Linked DNA regions of Homo sapiens. The protein of the gene in region 1 purifies or fractionates together with the protein of each later gene. This does not show direct contact. Each region holds a gene or a part of one and is shown in the gene's direction. Other genes may lie near its edges.

The links.
Region 2: the proteins of QSER1 (region 1) and TXK fractionate together in Homo sapiens (co-fractionation; one large-scale study listed by BioGRID). This does not show direct contact.

The regions. Positions count from the first base shown.
Region 1 is NC_000011.10:32,895,660-32,899,485, forward strand, and holds part of QSER1 (glutamine and serine-rich protein 1), read left to right. Parts: intron 1-3,826. UniProt on the Homo sapiens protein: Plays an essential role in the protection and maintenance of transcriptional and developmental programs.
Region 2 is NC_000004.12:48,092,580-48,096,405, reverse strand, and holds part of TXK (tyrosine-protein kinase TXK), read left to right. Parts: intron 1-1,181; exon of another isoform or gene 1,182-1,183; coding exon 1,184-1,263; intron 1,264-2,201; coding exon 2,202-2,329; intron 2,330-3,826. UniProt on the Homo sapiens protein: Non-receptor tyrosine kinase that plays a redundant role with ITK in regulation of the adaptive immune response. Regulates the development, function and differentiation of conventional T-cells and nonconventional NKT-cells.

The DNA.
Region 1 (3,826 bases):
CCATAAAGAATTAGCCTGTCTGTCACCTTGTTTCCTGTAACCTATTCAGAAGCTGACAGATGGTAATGACATTCAGTTGTTGCCGACAGGGATCTAACATCCTACTTTATGCCTTCTTGGTCTTGAAATACATCATTTTCATCAGTTGATGGGAAGGTACATGATAAACAGCTTTTCATGAGTTTGAAACAATACTTTTTTGAATACAACAGCTCTGTTAGTTATTAGGTAGTTTTATTGTACTAACAGTGGAAAAATAGAGTGGGAAACTCCAGCATTATACCTTAAATGGGGCTTATAGAAAGATTTTTGAATATTTCTCAGAGTACTTGCTAGGTACTTGGAAAGTACAGGGATAAGGACTGGCCATATAAATCTTCATTTATTTATGCTAATTTCAGTTCGTTTTAGGAACTAAATGAATGAACATGTCCTTTGCTGAACACCACGCAGTTGGAAATACCTTTTGGGGTGCAGTTTTGGATGTTGTAAATACCTTTGCATAGCTTGGGAAATAAGAAGGTCATCAAGAGTCTGCAGATCCATTGCCGCATTCTGTACTTGATACTTATATCTTGGTCACAACAGGAAGAGGCAGGCTGTTTTATGGTGATAATCGATGTGTTCGTATTTGAATATGCACCAGAAAGTAAGGGAATGGAAATATTTTGTATTTAAATAGGTTTATTTATTTTATTTTATTTTATTTTTTGCGATGGAGTTTCGCTCTTGTTGCCCAGGCTGGAGTGCAACGGCGTGATCTCAGCTCTCTGCACCCTCTGCCTCACGGGTTCAAGCAGTTCTCCTGCCTCAGCCTCCTGAGTAGCTAACCACACCTGGCTAATTTTTGTATTTTTAGTAGAGATGGGGCTTCACCGCATTGGCCAGGCTGGTAATTTTTGTATTTTTAGTAGAGATGGGGTTTCACTACATTGGCCAGGCTGGTCTTGAACTCCTGACCTCAGGTGATCCGCCCATTTTGGCCTCCCAAAGTGCTGGGATTACAGGTGTGAGCCACCGTGCCTGGCCTGTTTTTTGCCTTTCTAACTTGAAATAACTTTTGGCACCAGTTTTTAGAATTCCTAATGCATACTTTTTTTTAGTATGAGGTATAATGAGTATGATAAATACTCCTCTGAAAAACCAAAGTAATGATTAGCTCTTCTAAAACCTGTCAGTTTCTATATGATGGACATTTGTTTGATACATTTCAAATCTAGAGTTTTCCTCAAGGTTTTTGGGAAAAGGCCTTATAGATCATAATTTGTAAGGCGTAAGAACAATCTCAAGTTAATGAAAGGTTATTTCAGACAAACTTCCACTGTTAGAGTTCAGAAAGTTTTTTCCCATGGAAACCGTGTTGTAAGTAATAGTAGCTGTCATTTACATCACTAGCAACTAATTTGTGCTAGCTGTTTTAAGTCACACGTACATTCATTTATCAAAATTCATTTATCATGAATAAATGAATACATACATTCATTTATCAAAATTCATTATAAAAATCCTTTGAGGTAGGCATTCTTTTTACCATCCTTTTATGGATGAGGAAACTGAGGGATAGAGACATGAAGTAATTTATACCTACAGCTACATAGCTAGTAAATAGTGGTGCTGTGATTGAAACCTGGGCATTGCAGATCTGGAGCCTATGTGATAACCAGTGTACTGCACTGCTTTATTGTAAGATAGTGGAATGCTGTAATCCACCTATATGTGAAATGAGTTTCTGTGAGTTGGCCTGGAAACCTAAGCATCATTAATATCCTTATTTAAGTGTTCTTTGTCACCGTTGACCATTACCTAGTTGAAATACATTCCTTTTCACTTCCATAGCACTGTACTTGCCTGGTTTTCCTCCTACTTTTCTGGCCCAACGCTTTTTCCTGTTCTTCACTGGTGTTTACTCCTCTTCTGTCTAATCTCTGCATGTTACTGTTTCCTCAGGGCTTGGGATTGATAAATTTCTTGTTCATTCCTTGCTTTCTCCTGCGGACTCACATCCACGTCCATGCTTTTAAATACTATCTCAGTGGAGATGCCCATATTTGAGCAGACTCTTCTCAGGACCTCAGACTCTTCTGAAAACCTGATCACATAACCAACTACCTCTTTGACCTTTTACTTGAGCTTAATGATATGCTTTCCCCACCCATCACACCTCTGCTTCTCTAGTGAGGCCCATCTCAGTAGTCATACCTCTGTCCACTTAGTTGCCCAGGCCAGATGGTGGGAGTTGTGTGTGCTCAGTCACTAAGACCTACTGTTTTGAATCTAATGTCTTGAAACTGTCTGCTTCTTTTGTATCCACTGCTCCAGCTGGTCCAAGCCACCATTATTTTTCACTTGGACAACTGTGGTAGCTTCCTAACTTAGTCATCTTGGACCTTTTCTTTCCTCTCTTCAATTCATTCTTCTTATACCATCCAGAGTGATTTTTAAAAACACAGATCTACAAGTTTGCTCTTGGTCCTTTGCTTAAAGCCTTTCCATGGCTACTCCTACATATTAGGGTCACATTTTTAAACATCTGTAATATGGTCAGGCGTGATATCTCACGCCTGTAATCCCAGCACTTTGGGAGGCTGAGGTGGGAGTATTGCTTGAGCCCAAGAGTTTGAGACCAGCCTACGCAACGTGGTGAAACCCTATCTCTACAAAAAATAAATAGAAAAAATTAGCCGTGCATGGTGGCGTGCGCCTGTGGTCCCAGCTACTCTGGAGGCTGGGGTGGGAGGATGGCTTGAGCCTGGGAGGTGGAGGTTGCCGTGAGCTGTGATGGTGCCACTGCACTTCAGTGTGAGCGACAGAGTGAGAACCTGTCACACACACACACACACACACACACACACACACACACACACACACACATTGTAATGTGCTCTGTATGGCTCTGCGTTTACTGACCAATTTTTTTTAATTTATTTTCTTTTTTATTTTTTCTTGAGACAGGGTCTAACTCTGCTGCCTAGGGTGGAGTACAGTGGTATGAACACAGCTTACTGCAGCCTCGACCTCCTGGGCTCAGGTGATCCTCCCAAGTAGCTGGGACTACAGGCATGTGCCACCACACCTGGCTAATTTTTAAATTTTTTGTAGAGATGAGGTCTTGCTATGTTGACCAGGCTGGTCGGGAACTCTTGGCCTCAAGCAGTCTTCCTGCCTTGGCCTCTCAGGCGTGAGCCACCATGCCTCGCACTGGCCTGTATTAAATTCTTTGAATCATCCTAAATTCCTTCTTACCTTAAGGTTTTCATACATCGTCTTACCTTCACTTAGATAACTCTCACCCTATCCCCACCTCCCAGACTGACTTGTTAAGGTATCTCATGTGAGAAACCTGCAGTATTTTCAACCCTCACTCCTTGTTGCTTTGTGCAATGGTATATGTTTTCACAGAATATTTTATTTTACTTTCATATTCTTAGAAATATATACCTATGTATTGTTTATGTAATACGTATCTTCTTCAGAATGGAGGTTATTTGAAGAACCCCTATGTGTTTTGCTGTTATATTTGTAGTACTTAGTATTTACTTTAATCCATGGCATATAGTTGGTGCTTAATACATACTTATATCATGAAAGCCAGAACTCTGCTTCAGTGTGGGAATTGGAAGCCCCTTTCTTCCTGTTGCAGCCTCTAATGCCATTCCCCCTCTACCCTGTAGTTGGGACCAAGATGAAGGGTAAGTTTGTGATTATCTTTGGTTAGCAGGGTGGGGATATGGGCTACTACTTGTTTCTTCCTTTCCTTGGTATGTTCTCTGGAACAATGAGTACTAAAGTATGTCTACCAAAACACAGTTTTCTTTTATTCATTAAA
Region 2 (3,826 bases), on another chromosome or scaffold:
ACTTTGTTTCTATAAAGCTATCACTACATATGCAACTTTATATGCATATTATATATACTTGTTTGTGTGTATTATATACATATACACAATACATTCAACTTTACTTTTTCATCTTTGTCTTTTACATCTTGTGTCCTCTGTGGTATGTAACAGTACCCTTGTACATTGTAGGAATATAGTAAAAGCTAGATTTTATTATTTCGAATGGCTGCAAGAGATTCTTTGGTTAAAACAATTTGACCAGGGAATAAGGCTTATATCTGGGTGAATATCTGGAATGAGAAGGAGAAGACTCTACTTAATGTAGTACGTTTACCTTGAGGGTCAGACCATGCTATTTGGGTTCTGCAATTCTCAAGCACAATGTAAATAATACCAGCACTTTATAAGTGTAAGCTTCTATGGGTTTGACAAGATTCTGAGATGTATTTTCCCTCTTCATGAGCATAAGCACACTCAGTAAAGCTAAATCATTTTACAATATCAAACAAACGAATCTAAACAATGCAACATTCAAGATTCTTTGAAAGCAATTTACAGCTTTATTGGCATCTCCCAAAGAATGTTAATAGGAATCTAATTTATAACATAACTTCAGATTTACTATCATGTTCTCCCTTTTACCACTTCTTTTTATCTTCCCATACCCCTACTGCAACTAATATGGTTCCTTTTGCTTTTCTTTTCAGACTCCCCCATATCTGTTCTTTCTTTCTACTTCCCATGAACTCTGGTGTCCTTCCCCACGCCCTGCTTGCCCAGCTGTGTTCCTCCCTGTCACCTTGTTGCTCTTCTTCCAAAGTACAATCCGGTCAGTCTGTCTTAGTGTTCTTCCTATTCTACAGTGATTTTTAATCTATTATTCTGGTCAATATAACAAAAATAAGCAGTAGGGTACAAGGTTTTCAAATAGAGAATTTTTCTTAGAAAAATCAGTAACAGTATTCTAAAGTACATTATAAATGCATGTCCCAATTACAATTTATTTTATAGGTGTGACTTCTAAATCTATAAGGGAGATAAGATTTTGTGTACTTGTAAAGACAATCTAATTCTTCATATTAATAATATAGCAGGTCACTTATTTATGGTAAGTCAATATAGCTTTGATTTTCATCCCTGAGTTGTAGGTTTGTCTTTCTAAGAAGGAATAGACTTATTCAATAAATGATTTTTTTTGCAGTCTAAAGAAGGTGCATTTATTGTCAGAGATTCAAGACATTTAGGATCCTACACAATTTCCGTATTTATGGGAGCTAGAAGGTAAGCACTTGTGATTTTGGTTACTATAGAAATAATCCCTGGCACAGTCTCCATCACATAGAGAATGTTAGTGAGAGCTTAGCTTAGGGAAAAGATTGTTGACCTGGAAGTTAGAAAAACCAACCAGTCCGTGATATATCCCTAGCATGCTCTGTGTGACATTGCATAAGTTTCTTAACCTCTCCCGTCTTCCTTTTCTCAACCATAAAGTAAAGAGGGGGAGATTAGTTGTAGTAGACGCTGTTGGGCGCTTTCCTCATATCCCTTGGTCTGTTCTGGGATTCACTTGCAGAAAAGTCTCTTGCACTCAGAAAGCTTCCTGTGTCTGTCTGCCTGAGGATGTTCTCTGGCTGTGGGAACTTGTGCGCCCCGTGGCTAAGCTGAAAGTGCCTGAGAGGTAACATCCCAGGAGCAATGCTAGGTTAAAGAGAATGGGAGTTGGTGGATAAATATCTCAGCTTCTTTGCACTTCAGTGGGACAATTGTGAGGTGTGTTCCCCAGTCTCTCCTAGGTTCCTACAAGTATTGAGCCCCAATTGCCCATAGTAGTAACCTACTAACTAATGCACCTGGCATTGGTTTTTCCTCCCTTCTTGTCTCCCATCTCCAATTGCTTACAGTGCATGTGTTCATTCATTTAACCAATACTTGATATTCAATATGTACTTACATGTATTCATTATGAGATCTACTTTTCTGAACACTGGTCTTGTCACTCAGACAACTTTGGCTGAAGTTATGTTTGAATCTAAGGCCCCAATAATGTAGTTGAGGAATTTTCTTGGCATGGGGGGGCACTTGTTGAATTTAGCCAATCTACTTCTCAGTGTAGTGTTGCTAGGATGAGTTTTAGAACTGGAGTCCTGTTGTTTAATGAGTTGGCTTAGATCCAAATTGATCTTTCACATTTCTAGTAATTCACATTTTCTTGATTGTAGAAGTACGGAGGCTGCCATAAAACATTATCAGATAAAAAAGAATGACTCAGGACAGTGGTATGTGGCTGAAAGACACGCCTTTCAATCAATCCCTGAGTTAATCTGGTATCACCAGCACAATGCAGCCGGTAAGAGGGGAACTTCCAGCTGGGTGAGTCAGGGAGCCATGCCCTTGATGGGCAATGCATCTTTGGTATCAGGCACTCAACAGGAGCAAATCTCCCTATAGAAATAGTTTAAAAGCTTGAAGTACAACTTATCTTTTGAGCAATTATCTTTCTTATTGATGCCTCTTCATTTTTCTGGTTGGTTGGGGGCAAGAGGTAGGTCAATTTCTTATATTTCTACCAGGTTAGAAAAATGATAGATGACAGAGAAGCAAATAGTCATCAATCATTATGCATTTGTTCTGGAAATTTACATAGGGCTAAATGTAATAAGATTTCAAATACCCTAAATAATGATGCTTCTTTCCCTTTGCCCCCATAAATCTGCTCTCTACTTTTGACGATTGTAATAGAAAATCACCCTTATATCTCTCACTCTCTGTTCTTTCTTGTTTGGAGAATATAAAAAGTCACAGAGAACACAGCCTTTCACAGTTACAATTTAGCCTAACTATACCAGAGGCATATTTAACCCATCTCCCCAGACATTGTTTGCAATAATTGCTCTTTGTGCAAACCTATCATCTGTGGAAAGATGTAGGATCCCAGAAAGTTCCACCACAATTAAAATCACCTCTCTGGCCTTCAGCCCTTGCCCAACCTGTGCTGAACCACTCTGAGCCCATGGGGAATCTTCTTATCTCAGCATTGCAGAATTCAGAATCCACGGTAACTTTTCATGTCATTTTGACTGCTTGTCATGCATGCACTTCTTTTTTAGATTTCTCTCATGAAAAGTGTTGACAAATATTCCTTTTGGAAAGAGCTCACTTTTCCATTACACTGGTTCTAAGTATCAGGAATATATCAAAGGACATTTTTATCCACTTGTGGGATGCATCCACATGGCTATTCACTGGAATTTTGGTTAAGGAGTGAGGGTAAAATATCTGGGTGGGGCAATAAAGGTCTTAGTTGTAGCTAGAGATAGAGTCAAGATGTCAGTTCTGAGTTTTCTCCTTTATATTCCTCTTTCTCCTTCCTCCAAAGAAAAAAGAAAGAGTGGTTTTGGTGATAAGGTTAAATGAGGTTAGATGAGGGCTTTAACCTGAACTAGGTGTTAGAGTCACGGTGAGCATCCATTCCTGTTCCCTGTTCAAACTTTTACCATTCTCAAGACTCCTTTACCAAAATTAACCACTGCCTTATTAGCAAATCCCCTGTCTGTGTACCTCACTAGGAAAAGTGAAGTCACCAGGCATGAGCGACCTCCGTCTCCTCTTCTGTCCCCATGCCCTCTCATCCTCATTCCCTCCAGTAGTAGTGAGGGCATGCCTGTGCTCTTGCCCTTACCTGCCATCCACTGTTCCTTTCTCTCCTGTATCTCTTCCATTCTTCTGACTGTCTCCCTTTAGCTTTTAACCCTATAAACATGCTTAAGACTTTCTTATCCTAAAAACAAAAACAACTCTCCTCCTGCTGCCCTAACTCTTTCTCCCTTTACACATTGCTCTTGTA